Linked DNA regions of Homo sapiens: region 2 is linked to region 1. The links come from fine-mapping of genetic effects on gene expression. A gene starts in region 1. The other region holds a variant in brackets. All regions are shown on one strand. Distances are from middle to middle.

Evidence for each region.
Region 2: its variant is fine-mapped to the expression of SRRM4 in lung (TOPMed, PIP above 0.99).

The regions. Positions count from the first base shown.
Region 1 is chr12:118,976,656-118,984,983 of GRCh38, forward strand. It overlaps SRRM4 (serine/arginine repetitive matrix 4), which reads left to right and starts at 4,886. Exons shown (of 13, transcript NM_194286.4): 1 at 4,886-5,358. The coding sequence starts at 5,228.
Region 2 is chr12:119,153,407-119,161,734 of GRCh38, forward strand. SRRM4 (serine/arginine repetitive matrix 4) reads left to right here. Exons shown (of 13, transcript NM_194286.4): 11 at 133-243; 12 at 837-977; 13 at 3,089-8,328. The coding sequence ends at 3,392. Among named protein-coding and RNA genes, the nearest start is that of HSPB8, 21 kb to the right of the region's middle. RefSeq lists enhancers at 233-765, 766-1,296. The variant G/A (reference allele first, on the strand shown) is at 4,532.

The DNA.
Region 1 (8,328 bases):
TGAGGATTGATAAACATTGAGTAGTGCAATCATATTTTTCTCCCCAAATAAATAATCTTGTAATTTGAATGGTTTAGCATGATCTTGTTTAAAGACATAAAGACCGATGAATTGGTCTCATTATCATATTTCCCATCATCTCAGTAATTATTTGAATCTTTTGCTGTTCCCTGGACTTTTAGAAATGGGTACAGACTGTCAAGTTCTCTGATGCTGGTAGATAATGGTTGGCTCCATTGTACTCAGAGAAATCGTGGACACAGAAAGATTAAGAGATTTACCCAAGGTAACATGGTAATGTTAGTGAGGTGGGATTTGAACTGCCTCAGGAGAAGGGGTAGCTATTTCTCTGAGCTGGAGGTGCTGTATCTTTGGATCACTAAGGAGAAGGTTGCATAAGAATCTTCTTAGCTCCTGCTCTAGAGTGCCTGGGTTTGCAAAGTTTAGAATCATTTCTCCCTGCTGTCCCTTTTTTCAAATGAAAGAACAATACCAATCAGGTAAAGAAACATTCTCTAGACATGGATGGCAAATTGATTTTATCTGGAATGCCAAGACCAAACTATTAGTAGTGGCTATCTAGAAACTGTGTGTTAAGAAGGATTCTGAGGGTCGGTCTGAGAAAGAGTATTGTGAAGGATCAGTGATGTCTACCATCAGTATAGCACAGAGGGCAAGGAATAATTGTGCCATAAGTTTATATTCATTAACCAGCATATTAATAGGTCCTTGTTTATGGGGTGGGCTGGCTTGCATCTGGGGAAACAGAAAGCAATACCCGGAAGGAATGAGGCACAAGATGGTTCTATTTTAATAAAGTGATGGAGGAACTGGAGTTCACGTTATATTGGAGAAGCCAGACCTAAAGCAGAAGTCACTGTGATAAGATGAAAAGGGGACAAGTGTTAGTCAGTGGAGACCCAGAAGGAGAATTAGGCTGTGAACTGCTTCAGGGAAGGGACTATGTCTGGTTTGTCTTTGAGTCCTCCGTGCCCAGGACTGTGCCTGGCCAAGATGCAAGATTGGGCATCAGTTAATGATTATTGAACTGAATATGGCCTGACTTAACATAGTAACAGGTGATTATTCCAAGATCATGAGCAAGAAGAGCTACCATTGAATGGTCACTTGCTATAAACTGGACAATTTATTAAGTCCTTTACCAGTAATATTTCATTTAATCTTCCCAACCACGATGTGATATCTCCACTTTTGCAAATGAGGAAACAAAGGCAGAGGTTAGTTATTAGCCCAAGCTCATACAGCTACAAAGTGGCAGAGCTGGGCTTCATATCCTAGTTCTCTCTAAATCCACAGGCTGGGCTTTTAACCACTTGAGTAATTGATATTTTTGAGTAAACTGTGTTTCAGACACATTCTAGAACCTGTATGTGTGTTAATTCCTTCAATCCTCACAGCTAGTTCATCTAAACATATTATTTATAATCTTTATAGAATCTTCATGAAACCCCATCTCTACTAAAAATACAAAAAAAATTAGCTGGGCCGTCGTGGCAGGCGCCTGCAATCCCAGCTACTAGTGAGGCTGAGAAAGGAGAATGGCTTGAACCTGAGAGGCGGAGGTTGCAGTGAGCTGAGATCACACCACTGCATTTCAGCCTGGGCAACAGAGCGAGACTCTGTCTCAAAAAAAAATTCTTCATAGTATTGATAAAGAAACTGTGACATAGGCAAGTGAAATCCCTCCTCCAACATTACACAGCTAGGAAATGGCAGAGCTGGAATTTGAAGCCAGGCATTCTGGATTCCAAGTCCTGAACTGATTACTGCAGACTCCCAATTTAGGAACCTCAACACCAGGTGCTTCTAAGTATGTGACTCATTGTTATCTGATTTATTTTTAAATGGTGGTCCATCCTGATATGCGTAGTATCCCACTCCATCCTCCACCCCACCAAGCAAAAACAGAAACTGTATTTTTCACAAATTTCCTTTGCTTCCTACAGGATCACCCTGGGGAAGTCACTTGGTCATCCTCAACTTCTTCATGTTTAAAACAGAGTAAGATCGAATAGCAGGTCTACGTTTTTTAACTTTTATTTTAAGTTCAGGGGTACAAGCGCAGGTTTGTTACATAGGTAGACTTGTGTCACGGGGGTTCGTCGAACAGATTATTTCATCACCCAGGTATTTAGCCTAGTACCCATTAGTTATTTCTCCTGATCCTCTCCCTCCTCCCAACTTCCACCCTCCAAAAGGCCCCAGTGTGTGTTATTCCCATCTATATGCCCATGTGTTCTCATCATTTAGCTCCCATTTATAAGTGAGAACATGTGGTATCAGGTTTTCTGTTCCTATGTTAGTTTGCTAAGGATAATGACCTCCAGCTCCACTCATGTCCCTGCAAAGGACATGATATTCTTTTCATGGCTGCGTAGTATTCCATGGTGTATATGTACCACAACTTCTTTATCCAGTCTATCACTGATGGGCATTTAGGTTGATTCCATGTCTTTGCTATTGTGAGTAGTGCTGCAGTGAACATACACATGCATGTGTCTTTATAAAAGAATGAGCAGGTCTACTTTTAGTTCTTTGAGAAATCTTCATACTGTTTTCCATAGTTGTTGTACCAATTTACATCCACACCAACAGTGTATAACTGTTCCCTTTTCACTGCATCTACACCATCTATTTTTTTTTTTTACTTTTTAATAATGGCCTTTTGGGGGTAAGGTACTATTCGGGTGACAGGTATGTAAAAGCCCAGACTTCATCACTATACAATTCATCCATGTAACCAAAAAACACTTGCACCCTTAAAGCTATTGAAATAAGATAAATAAATAAAATAGAATAAGATCAGCTTTCTCTCCCACCTCATCTGGCTACGATGGGATTTTAAAAAGGCAATGTTTTGCATATGGGAGCTCTATCAACATTTTAGGGATTAGGAGCAGGCACACAACTGGAAGATGTTGACTGATCTTGTGGGGGTAGGATCCCACCTACCTCTCTCCTGCAAGTGACTCAGTTCATACCCTAAATGTCATGACTAAGGTTAGTTTTAAAGATGCCAGTCTGCTACCTATAAGAAGCCAGCTCTAGATTGCATTTACAATGATACCAACTTCTGGGTGGGAAACGGGGGTCTAGCCCAATCAGGGAATGGGGGATTTGGGGCGCAAGGTAAGAGGGAGAGGAAGGGAAGGGGTTAGCCTAGTCTCCACTTTGCTCCATCTCCAACCTTCCCAGGCCTGACCCCCACCTCTGGGCCCTCTCCCCCGGCAACCCACATAAGAAGCCAGCAAATGCACCTCTCGTTGTTGACCAGAAGGGGTCACTGCAGAGCAAGTAGCGCTCTCAGGCACTCAAATAAGCGGACGCAGGCGTGTCGAACACACACACTTCAAACGTAGATACCCTTTGGGGCGGGTACTCATTTACTCCAAGGTTCTTTCTTCTCCTGCCCCATCTTATCCTCTCTGTTGGCCTCTTCATCTTCACCTCCTAGTTACCTCCTGTTCCCCTTCAGAGAATTTCTGGAGTTCCCATTGTTCTCCCGACCCCCCCGCCCTACCCCGCCCTCATTGGGTCCCCATTGCTATCTGCTTTAGCAAAGAGCAGGAGTTTATTCTCGCTGTGACTGGGACTCAGCACCAGGTGCTTGGAGGCATTTAAGACTGAGCGAGGCCTCCTTCCAGGAATTTACAGCCTGGAAAGTGGAAGCGGGGTTGGGGGGAGGGGGAGGGCGTTAGGTGGGAGATGGGGGAGTAACAACTCTGCTAAGATTAAAAGGCTTCCAGGAAGGCAAGGGCTGAGGGGTCCCGCCACGATCTCTTTTTTTTATAATGAAAACCCTGGGGGAAAACAAGAGTCATTCTAACCAGATCTTCTGTGTCTGGGGTTGATTTGGGATTCTAAACCTCCACTTGCTTGGGATTACGATTGAACTGCGAGGCGGTAAGGAGATGGGGAGGAGAGACCGAAAAGTAACTATCCCCCTGCTAATCCTCGAGATTTTCCTCTCCAACCCTCCCACTAAGCGCTTTCTTTTCCAAAACGTACTCCTTTCCCGAGACTAGCGGCATTAGGAAAAGTGGCTGCAGGCGGATTCCCCAGGAGTGGATGGGGGTGGGGTGGGGTGAGATGGGAACTCTTTCCTCTGGACGGGGTTGGCGGCGGGGACGCTGGGCAGGCCGGCTGTGAGACACAAAAGAGATACCCTTGACAGCTCCGCATGCACAGATGTAACGCTGCGCCCCTTGGCGGGCGGGGGCCCTGCTCGGCAGATGGCGAGAAGCCGAATTGGTGAGGGATTGTCTATCAAATGGCACTTTCTGGGTGGTGGAGACCTCGCTAACCCCCGGCGCAAAGAGGAACGCAGGGCACCCTCTGTACCGGCCTAGGCCGTGTCTCCCAAAAGTGAGGGTCTGGGGGAGGCCGGCTGGGGTGGATAGATTAAGTTTTTTACGAGCCCCCCCAACCCCCCCCCCCCCCCCACGCAGAAGATCAGCTACAAGACTTGCGAAGGGGCTGGAAAGAAAGGTGGCCTGGCCCAAAGGGGGCACCCAGGAAAGGGCTGAGGAAGGCCAGCGATGATGGGAGAGGAGAGGGGCCTGGGAAGCAGGATCTCCTGCCTGGCGCAGATTGGGGTGCCAGGATGGCTTCTCAGAGGGATCAGCGCTGCAACTCGGTCGCCGCGGGGCCCTGGTGACAGGCGCACGCCCCGCCCTTTCTCCTCCCAAGACCTGCGGGCTTTTGTTATGCAGATGGCGGCAGGAGGCTGAGCCTGAGGAGGAGGGGGTTGGTGGGGAGGAGGAGAGACGGAGAGGGGGGAGGAAAGTGCAGCTCGCGCGACCAGCCTCCTCTTCCAACGTCACATTGTGCGAGAGACAAAACCCGGGCGCGCCGGAGCTCACACGCGCACGCACACACATCCGACCCCGTCGCCTCTTCTCTCCTGGTGCTGCCCAGAAAGCCAGCCCTCCCTTCCCTTCTTGGGGCGCAGAGGCTCAGCCAGCTCAGAGCGCAGCCTGGAGCCGACCCAGAAGGGCGAAGAAAGCCCAGCGGACGAGCCTCCTTTCTCTGCTGCCTGCCCGGGCTGGGGCGTCCCATCCCCCGCCCTGAACTCCGATCTCTCCCACCCCACCCCTCTCTGGGTTTCACCCGGACAGAGCCGGGAGCTGGGTGTCGCCCCCGTTTGGAATCCACGTTTCAGCACTTTGGACAGCGCCCCGGACGCCCCGGCCCCTTTGGGTTGGCGATGGCGAGCGTTCAGCAAGGCGAGAAGCAGCTTTTTGAGAAGTTCTGGCGAGGAACCTTCAAAGCGGTGGCCACCCCCCGTCCCGAGAGCATCATTGTCGCCAGTATCACGGCCCGCAAGCCGCTGCCAAGGTAATGATCTCCTTCTTAGAAGGGGGGATCCTGAAGGTCCTCCTTTCTGGCCTGTGCCCCAGAGCCCGGAGGGGTGGATGCAGGCAGCCGGGCCAGGGCGCCTGTCTTTTCCCGTCACTACTCGGCGGCTCCCGCTGAAACATGGGAACTCATTGCTTGTGTGAGGTGGAAGATGGTGAGAAGGGACAGGAATTCTTTGGGGGAAAGCAACGCTTATTGGACCCCCGTAGCTCCTATTCAAGAGGTTTTGCTACCTGAGGGTGGGCGGTGCAGATGGGGTACGACTTGACTGAAAAACTTTTCTTGGTGTCACAGAGTCCAGAGGGCAGGTGGGCCAAGGAATGGTGGATTTGAGATGTTTGGGGGGTGTTGTACCAGAAAAGGAGAACTGAGCCAGCTCAAGCAGCGTTCAGAGATAGCACACATTTCCATCCTCGGCTCGGAAACTAGCGAGCTTTGAACATTTTTGACAAAAGCCCATATGCTGTTCCCTCAAATACACCCAAAACAGCACCCTCCTCCACGCCTTTCTGGCGGCTGCTGCCGCTGCTGCTGAATTCTCTCCTCTCCAGCATCCAAAACCAAGACTCTGAGCTCAGGAGTCAGGGAGGAGCCTTCCAAGATCGTGAAGATGATCTTGGAAGAGTTTTATTTTGTTTTTTTTTGTTTTTTTTTTTTTTTTCCAAAAAGAATCTGATTGCTTTGAACTCAGGGATGAGAACCGATCCTTGGATGGTGGTAGACATGGTGCTGATGGAAGGAAGAATAAGGGAAGAAATGAAAGAAACAGGGGAACAGGAGGTGGGGTGAGAGGGAGAGGAGGTTGGGGGAAAATGGAAGCATTCCAAGACAGAGAAAAATCCAATTCTTTTCATAAATCATTCAATTTAGAGGAGTTTAAGAATGAAGGGAAGAAGGCTGTGCTCTCTGTCAGGGAAAATCAAGGTAGTATGAAAACTCATCTTTTGCTGGTGTTGGATGAGTGGTTTAGTAGGAGAAAAGAAAGAAGTGGACCAGGGGGACCACTTGGAGGATTTATTAATCCTGGCAGTCTGCATTAGGGAGCAGATTGAAAACATGTCTGCAAAAGTGCTTAGGACAGACTGAACGTCTGTTCTGGCACAACTGATTCTGAACTTTCCAGTGAGTGTGAGGTGGAAGACGTATGGGAAATTATGTCTGAAGAATCAAAGCCAGATTGGAGAAGTTTTCCTCTTCACTGTCTTATTGAGGATCATACAGGTCTTTAGAGAAATAGGTGTCCCATTTAGGAATGGGTGGCCAAGCATCACAACAGGCCAGTAGGGTGTAGCAGGCTTCAAGCTAAAGCAGCACCAGCCAGTGTTTGCAGACGGGAAGGAGGGGACACCCACCCACCCACTGACACAGGCTGGAGAAGGGGAACAATAATACCAAATGCCATTAAAGGCTGATGCTTCTCTGCTCCGAAGGAGGTTCTGTGTATAGAGTTTTGACGTCAGTGGTTTTTATCTTCCTGGGTTTCTGCTATCTATTCCACCTTTGGAACGTACCTACTGTTGGCTAATCAGGTGCTGCACTGGCCAAAGAAAATGCCCTTGTAGAAGGAACTAGAGGAAATTTCACAGGAAACTAGAAGTATGGCATTTAGTCCAGAGTCTTCCATCTATTTTAGGGGTGCAGGGAGAGGAAAGCGGATTCTTGGTGGTGTTTTGATTCAGGAAAGCACACCTATTATCTGCCTTGCTTGGTACTTTCCACTTTTGTCTGTCTCTCTGTTACTGTCCTGCCCTTTTCTTGGTCATATTTGCAATCACATGAATGGCCCACAAGGTCTTTCAACCCTCATCCTTTCTGCAGCTTTTTGCTAATTCTAATGTAATCCTGAGACTTTTATAATACTCCACTCCCCCTCTGCAACCAGTATCATTTCACTCTTGGTGCCTTTTAATGTCGTGGGTCTCCTTTGCCCTAGAAACCACCCCTGAGGTGAAAGCCTGAACCATAAGCCCTGGATTTATGTCACGCTAGGAGAATCCTGTGTAATACTTCTGTAATAGGCGTGGCCTCTCTGTAGAACAGATTCCGGTTTTATAACTGTTACTCCTGGTTTGGGGTAGAGAGTGAGAAGGGAACATTTGTTTCCAAGTCCTCAGGAAAGGTTGGATTGGAGTTGTCTTTTAACAGACTGGATAAAACCTGAATCATCCCCATTCTCACCCAAGCCAGCCACATCCAGTGACATTCAATTTCCACTTCCTTTTCAACATTCTACACTTACTTAAGGGTGAAAGTACCATGTTTCCAAAGCTGAGTTCTCAAGAGGAAAGAAGACAGAGGCATTGGCACAATATCAGCTGGGTTTGGGTGGCTTCCTCTAGAGGCAATCTGGGGACTTGGTCTCATCAGAAATGTCGTTTAGTTCCATGAGTCAAGCCCAGATCACAGTCGGCAAACCAGCACATGTAGCAGTCTGCAGGGGGATGGCAGGGAGTGGGTGGAGGAACCACTAGTCAGTCCTGTTGGTGTCACACTTAATATTTGTTTATAGATGAAGGCCACCCCTCTGAATAAACTTCCTCAGGATATTTTAAGTCTATCTCTCAAGGTAATTTAGTACCAGGATAGAAACATATATTCAATTCATTGATTTCATAGCAATATGCATACATCATGCAACTGCAATCTAAGCAACCCCCTGCTTAGTCTCTCTTTCTCCTCTACCCCTCTGTGGGGCATACTTGATGAGGCAATAGCTTTATAATGTATCAAATTGCAACCAGATGTCTGCCTCAAATGTCAGAACAGTAGAGCAGAGTGGGAAGCAGTATATCATAGTGGTTAAGAGCTCAGACTTGAGCATGAGACAACCTGGATTCCTGTCCTGGTTCTATCATTTACTAGCTGTGTATCCTGAACAAATAGTTTTACCACACTGAGCTTGAAAATAGAAATAATAACAGTAACCCCTCAGACAACAGGTTGTAAGGA
Region 2 (8,328 bases), 180 kb after region 1:
CCAGTTCCTCTGCCTGGCTTCCAGAAAGAAAAAGGTCACTGCCCAGGGACCCGCTGAATAAAGCTCAAGCCGTCTTGGATAACCCAGGCGGACACTCAGCAGGCTCCTCAGAGGCTGTTACCTCTCCCCCAGGTCCTACTCCCGCTCTCCCAGCTATTCCTCCAAGTCTGGCAAGAGGAGCCCGCCCAGCAGAAGCTCTAGGTCCCGCCGCAGCCCTAGCTACTCCCGCTACAGCCCCAGCAGGTACCGGCCCCGCCCCTCAAACTAGGCCCGTCCTAGGCCCCACCCCTTTGCTCTGATCCTCCTCTCTGGCCCCGCCTCCCCGTTCTCGGGCCTTCTTCCTCTTAGGTCTGACCCTGACTCAGCATTCTTACAGTTCCCTTTGTCCAATCAGGAGTGGCAGCGAGGCATCAAATACCCTTGTTTCCTAATGTCTCCAGCCCAAACAGTCCCGCAGACATACCCCAGAATTCACATCCCCAGCCCTCAGCCTCTACAGACCGTCCCCATATTCAGAGCCCCCAGTTCTTACCCACGCACCAGGGCCTGCGTAACATTCACGTCCTCACCCCTGCAGCACCTGCCCTGCTATGATGCCCACCTGCAAATGCTGACACCCCTGCACAAGCCCAGCCCCCACCCCTACGGTACTAACAACCCTCGCAGACTCTTACCGCAGCCCCGTCATCCTCCCTCCGGTCTCCCTTGCGGCAACGTGCAGACCCCATCCCGTGACCCAGTGGGGTGGGAAAGAAAGGGAGTGTCCCTCTCCCACGCGCTCACGCAGAAAATCCAGCCCAGCCCCAGCTCCCCAGTAACCCCCCGCGCCCCTTCAGGGAGCGGGATCCCAAATACAGTGAGAAGGACTCGCAGCAGCGGGAGCGCGAGCGAGCGCGTCGGAGACGTCGGTCCTACTCGCCTATGAGAAAGCGCCGGAGAGACTCCCCGAGCCACCTGGAGGCCCGGAGGATAACCAGGTGAGGCCAGGGGGCAAGGGGGACCCACCTTCATCCTCGTTCCCACTCCCATTCTTACTCATTCGAGCCTCAGGCTCTCCCTAGGCCTCCTTGGGGCTGGGATTTAGGATTGTGCGAGCTTATGGTCCCCCCAACCCCAACATCATTGAAATTACGTGTCTGTTCAAAGCCTTGGGACTGAGTCTCCCAGCTCAACCAGCAGGGCCTGCAAGAAGGGGGCGGGGCCAGCCTGAAGAATCGGGTGTGGCATGGGGGAGTGGCCAAAGCCTGAGGGTGGAGCTGGGGCCGGGGAGGTGGAGCTGGGGCCGGGGAGGCGGAGCTGGGGGAGAGAGTGGCGTCAGGCCAGGGAATGGAGGCCAAAGCAATGGAGCAGGACCTTGGCCTGGTGGTGGATCCCGAGCAGCGGAGACAGACCTCTACCCTCAGACCTGTACACTCAGCTGTCAGGCTTAAATAAACCTATATGTAATTATACCTTGAACCAAGTGTGGAAAGGACAAACAGGATTGCTTAGTTCCCAAAGGGACCTAGAGGGAGCCACGGTGGATAAGCCGGAGAGCACTGGATGTGGATTGGAATCCTGAATGTACCACTTTGCAGGTGACCTAGGAAAGGCTCTTACCTTCCTGAGCCTCAGTTTTCTCACCCATGAGATATTGGAAGAAATAACTCCCAGAAGCATGAGGATGAAATGAAAAGGGGCAAAAAGATGTGAACGTGCTTTGTAAACTTGAATGCAGAGTACACAATGTGCCATTGTTGATTGAATGGTCAGAATAGGTGGATACCGTTCCTGGAACAGGTAAGGCCTCAGAAGAGAAAAGCTCTAGCAGAGAAGTCTGAGTGCAAGCAAATTTCTCAGGCCTTGAAAGCTGGGAGAATGATTGAATGCTGCCCTAAGATTGGGTTGGGCTCTTCCTGCTGGCCTTCCAGGCATCTGCCACTCAGTCCAGACACTGGACTGAGGAATCAGGGATTCTCCCTGGAGATGACCTGGAGGAGGAAAAAGAATGTGTTTCCCAGATAGCAAGGCTGGGGTGATGGGTCCCCTTCTCCAATATCCCACAGGGCACCCTGCCTCAGCTTGTAAAGAATTCCTAAACCCTTGGGAGGCCAAGGCAGGCGGATTGCTGGATCTCAGGAGTTTGAGACCTGCCTAGGCAATATGACAAGACCCTGTCTCTACCAAAAATACAAAACACTAGCCAGGCATGGTGGTGTGCACCTGTGGTCCCATCTACTTGGGAGGCTGAGGTGGGAGGATCATTTGAGCCTGGAGTGGGGTGGAGGTTGCAGTGAGCCGAGATCGCACCACTGCATTCCAACCTGGGTGACAGAGCGAGACCCTGTCTGAAAAAATGTAATTAATATAATATAATACAATATAATTCCTAGCATAATTTCTAAACCCACTCCCTTGATCCAGTGTCACACAGCTATTAAGTGGCCAGGATAATAAGCACAAAATAGAAGTTGTTGGTATTATTATTATCTTTGGGGTCAACCTAGAGGAAAGCTAAGATAGAGAGTGGCATTTCCAAATGGCTGTCTAGTTTCTTTAGTCAATCTCAAATAATTCATCTTGATTAACCCATTCAGTGTTTCCCAATCTTTAGTCATTCACCAGTATCTTGACCACATATGACTTGTCTGTTTATCAACTGTACTATTCTTAATTTTCTTTAAATAGATATGACTCTTTTCAAAGGTTCATACATTTATTTCTAAAGGAAACGATACAGTACAGTAAATGGAAAATTAGCCTCTTTTGCCATAAATAGATGGTTCTAGTAAAAGTAAAAATAGGAAAACAAAACTATGATTAAAGTTTAGATGTAGATTCTGTTGCAAGCTGAAGGCTCTGAGCTCCAGGCTTGCTTCATGGGGGAAAGAAAAAAGTGAGATAATCATTTTTCAAGACATACTAGCACTAAGCTGAGACTTTTACTTTGATGTGTTCTCAGCACTGCAAGAGAAGTGGAAAGGGAGTATTTTTTCCTAAGGGACTGGGGAAAGGGAGGATATTGGTTTCCCTTGGGACAAGACTGGGGCTCGCTGCGGGGAGGCACGGAGGGGCCGGCCCTCATCCCTCCTCTCTCTGGTCTCTGCAGTGCCCGGAAACGCCCCATCCCCTACTATCGGCCCAGCCCCTCCTCATCCGGCAGCCTCAGCAGCACCTCCTCCTGGTACAGCAGCAGCAGTAGCCGCTCGGCCAGCCGCAGCTACTCCCGGAGCCGGAGTCGGAGCCGGAGCCGGAGACGGAGCCGGACCCGCACGAGCAGCAGCTCTAGCTCCCGCAGCCCTAGTCCGGGCTCCCGCAGCCGGAGCCGGAGCAGGAGCCGGAGCCGGAGCCGGAGCAGGAGCCAGAGCCGGAGCTACAGCTCAGCAGACAGCTACTCCAGCACGAGGCGCTAAGTGCCCCTGAGCCAGCTGCCCGTGGGGGCCCCTTCGCGCTGCCAGCCTCCCCCAACCACCTGCCCTCCCCGCCTTCTTGGTGACAAATAGTGAGGGCTCCTATACCTTGTCCTTCCTGCTTGCCTAGGGGAAGAGGAGAAGAGGGTAAGGGGGCTTCACTCTCTAGATCAGCCTGCTAGGAGCCTCTACCAGCATCATCCTGGGGCCCAGCTCAGGCCTGGGCATATGGAAAGAACCATCATCTTGTGGCACAAAAAAAGAAGAAAGAAAAGAAAACTTCAAGGTTTTGTGAGAAGCAATGGGTCTGTGACTCAAAAATTGAGCCCTGGCCAGGAAAATGTGGAGACAGTTCTTCTCCTCCACTGCTCACAGGAGGCCCGTGGTAATTCTCCCCACCTCCCCGGATGCCCCACTAGTCCAACTTCATGGCTGCACGTGGATGGACCCCCATGTCTGAGAGGGGTGAAAGAGGAGACCAATGGCAGTTCAGGTTCAAGATAACGGGGTCAGGCCTTTAACTTCCTCAAACAGGCCCAAGCAAAGGCTGGAAGACATTTGGGTCCTAGAAGAAGGGATATCCTTGAATACCAGATGGGGACGTTTGACTTGGTGGGAGGTGTCAGGAGATAGGAGTTGGTTAAGATGATAGATAGAAAAACGGAAGGGTTCAGCTGCTGCTCCCAATACCTCAGCATGGTAAGGGGACAGAGCCCAGCAGATCCCAGCTGTGAAGAGGCCACTGCATGGCTGACACAAAACACCTCTTGGCCATTCACAGGGGCCCTGCAACCTCACGAGAAAGGAGATAGTGGAAGAGTCAGGACAGGTTGGTCTCCAGCCCCACTTCCCAAATATGCCTCAGCCCCACTAGCTGGCACCAACTTAATTCCACGGGACCATCTGCTGAACATTCCCCAGTGCCATGGCCAGTTGCCAGGCCCCAGCGCCAGCCAGTCTGGCCTTACCCTCCGGTTGGCGCCTGCCAGCCCCCTCCCCTCTGCCCAGGCTGCCACGCCCTGGATGCCACCCAGTGCAGCCTGGCACCTACCCACCCACCCTTCAGCTTAAGCCACTCCCCTTGCCTCTCAGGAATTTTGCCAGGATGGGGCACAGCAGCTCAGGTTTGGGGGAAAAGACCC[G/A]AATCCAGAGTGCAGGGGAGAGGGGCTTGGATATGCCATGTCTTGGGCTCCTGCTGGCTTCTGAGGTTTCTTGTCAGCTTGGGAAAGACCCACCTTTATTTTTGCCCTCACCCCAAGTCCCCCCTGGCTGGGGCTGGGCAGAGAGGGTAAGCTGATCTCCGATCCACAAATACCACCAGCTGCTTCATCCACAGAAGGCGCTAAGAACGGGGAGGTGAGGAATAAGATCCTTAAAATAAACTCTTGGGCATCCCCCTCACCAGCTGACTGGCTTTCCGGAGGCTTGTGGGTGAGTTTCAAGTTTGTGGTGGCAACAGCAGCAGGACAGGGCACGGAGGGAGCGAGGGAGAGAGGACCGGTCCCAGCTTTTGGATATTTTGGGTTATGGGGAAGCAAGGGCCAAACATTCTTTATCCCTCCCACCCCAGGGAAAACATTTGGAAAATAGTCCTTTTTCTTGGAAGCAGTGACGTCTCCCTACCCAATCTTTCCCATCCTATCAACCCATGGGGCTAGAGACTGCCATGCAACCACCACCACGACAGCCCTTCCTCCATCAGAAGACAGGAGTGAGGGCCCCGGGCAGCAGTGGACGACCCAGCCTCCCCATACCGGGCCTCTGGCCCAGACCTAAGCCCTGCCCACAAAGACTAATGGATGCCAGTGCTGTCACTGCAGAAGGCCAGATGGCAGGTGCCTGGGACAGGGGCAGGTGCCCCGGGGAGGGCAAGTACAGCCACTGTAAATAACCCTCGTCCCTGCCCAGGAACCCAGACTGGACTTCAGTCTCCCTCCATGGAGACAAAGGCTTCCCAGAGCCACCAAAAACCTTCTTAGCAGGACAGCTGTGAGAGGCATCAGAACCTCACGTTCGGACTGCCTTCATCAAGACAACTCTAGGGGACCATTTTGCCTGGGGCTCCTAGCAAACCTTTTTATTTATTTTATTTATTTATCTATTTATTTATTTGATGACTGTCTCTCTTTCTCGCCATTAGCAGTATTGAATTATTTATTTATACAGAGGTTTTGTGTGTGTGTGTGTGTGTGTGTGTGTGTGTGTGTGTGTGTGTGTGTGTGTTGGGGGGATCTCCTAAATTATTTCTGTGCATCTCCTTTTTTTTTCTGCTGTTTTTTATGGATGGGATTTGAGAGGCCAAAGGTGAGTGGGCTATTGGCCTTCTCCCTGAAGGCTCTAAGCCTGGAACACCCTGGGGTTGGCCCAGAAGGAGGCACATCAGTCCCAAAATTCATCACTTAACCCAGCGTCCAGGAGGGTCAGGCCTGTACCCCAGCCTCCTGTCCCCCAGGAACCTCACAGGGGTATCAAAAAGATGTAAACAGCCCAGAGGCTTATGAGCTACAGTGATGAATTGACACAGTGGAGTTGCAACTTAGGTGGGGGTTGGAGTCGAAAGTTGGCAAATGGGGCCAAGGCTGCACAAAGTCGAAATCCCTTGTGAATGTCCCTTAGGGAGGCACCAGATTGGAGACAGATGTGCTATCTCCTAACAGAGTGATGAGGCTTCAGTTGAGTACTTGCTGAAGTAGTTGCCTTGTATTTTGAGGGCCATGGTGGATGAAAATGATGTCTGGTTTAGTACTGGAATTGCACTTGGGGTTGACAAGGTGCTCACACCATGAGAATGGAGGCAGGAATTGAGCTGACTGAGGGAAGATGCACCTTGATCTCACCCTCACTCCAAGGCACATAGCAGGATCACTCCCTAGCTTCTCTGAGCACACCTAGTTGGTTTCATGTATGTTACACATGCTTCCACTCCACAGTACCTAATTTCTCTCTGTCCCCTGAGATCTGAAGGCTACCTTGGGAAGAGGCATCAGCCATCTTGCTTGAGAACCACCAAGCCAAAAGCAAAAGCTTTTATCTATGATCTCTTGCTGTTTCATCAGGGGAAAGCACAAAGCTATTTCTGAAATTAGGAAAAAAAAAAAAAAGGTGGAAGGAGCAGCCAGATGTTCCACAGGACCCCACCAAGAAGGTCATTTCCAAACCCATCCTGGAAGGGCCCAGGATCCAAAGGTCATCAGTCCTGCTTATCTGACCAACTGGCAGTGTCTTCTGGCTGCTGGCCGGAGACAGCTCTTGCCCTTTCCAAAGTCACTGTCCACTGCCTTGCAATTGCCAGCTTGTCTGGTCCAGCTTTGGGTTTGGTGAGACTTTTGCAACATCCCTGGTTGTTTCCCTGGCAATGTGACTATCCAGCCCTAACCCAAAGCAAGGGAGTGCCCCTTTCCTGGGTGAAGTTTACAAGAAGGCTGCTTAAATGCCTGCTTCGGGGAAATCTCTGCCTCTCTCTCTCTCTGTCTCTCTCTCTGTCTCTCTCTCTGTCTCTCTCTCTCTCTCTCTCTCTCTCTCTCTCTCAGTGTATTTCTCTACTTTCTTTTACATTTCCTTTTTTTCTATCCAAAAACAATGTGCTTGTTGAGGCACTGGTAACCCTGATTAACCAGAACCTCCCATTCCCAGTATCGCTGTTCCTACGCCCATTTCACCCTCATTACCTTCTGCTTCCAAGGAATATGACAGATCACCAGGATGCTGCTCGTCGTGAGGATTTATCTCAAAAACCAACATCCAAAATGGGAGGGAGATGTGGCTTGAGGTCAAGCGCCATGCATCCCAAGCCTTTGACCTTCCCGCTATGGAAGTGCACTGGATGACAGAAACTGAATACATTGCTCCCTTTCCCTAGGGCAAAGTTCGACCTCTGTTAAGTGGAGGGATTTGTGAGATAAAAATTCAAAATGTTGGCCTGAGGCCTGAGAGTGTCACCAAAGACAGAGGGAGCTTCACTGAGACTCAGAGGGAAAAGGAAAAGAGCCTCAAACATTTTTAGGAGGTTGTCCATCATGAAAGTAAAAACGAAAAGCAAGATTTGATCTCCCTTCAGTTAATTAGGCAAGGCTAAGTAACTCAAAGCCCCCTATTAGTAACATTCTGGTTCACTGAGGTTTGATCATATTCCTATCTGCATTCCTTCCCTTCTTTGAAGGACAGCTGATCTTTCAGAAGCAGAATAAAATTAAGATGTTAGAACAAAGGTCTCAGTCTCAGAGAACCGCATCACTTCATTTGCTCAGACCCATCCTCTTTTGCAAAAGGGTCTGCTTGGAGAGGCCAAAATTCAGGGTGCTCTCAAAGGCAAAGAAAGCACATTGTTTTCCTTCTCCAGTCCAACTTTCATCTTTTCTTCTGCTGTTTTCTTTTCCCCTCTTCTTTTTCACAAATGTTCAAAATGGTCTCATGCGCATGTGTCTTGCCCCACTTTCCCCTTTAGCTGAACAGAAAATTTTGTCTCAGTAAAACGAAGTCAAAAAACAGGATTCCTCCAAACATGCCTCCTCCCGCACTGGCCAGCCGAGTCCAGCTGAGAAACTTATGCTAGATTCAATGTCATTGAGCAATGCTTTATTGAAGTCTCGTTCTTCTCACTTCTGCACCAGTGAGCCAATGATACTGACAGAAATGTCATCTCTCTTCTATCTGTGGTTGCTGTTTTTGGAGTAAAAGTTTCTGTGTGTGTTTTTTTAGTTCTTTTGATGGCTGTTGTTTTGCATTGTAAATACCATGATGGGGGACCCCCATCAGAACATGGCTTATTTAATAATTTATTTCGTATTTATTGAGTAATATTGGGAAAAGAGAAGGACCACCTCTTTCCCTGAATTGCTATTGAGAATTGGTCCATCTCCCAGCTCCAGGTGCTGCTGTCTGCAGCAAGGGCATTACTGCCCAGGTAAGGAGTGCTAGAATCACCAAGCAAATTGAAATT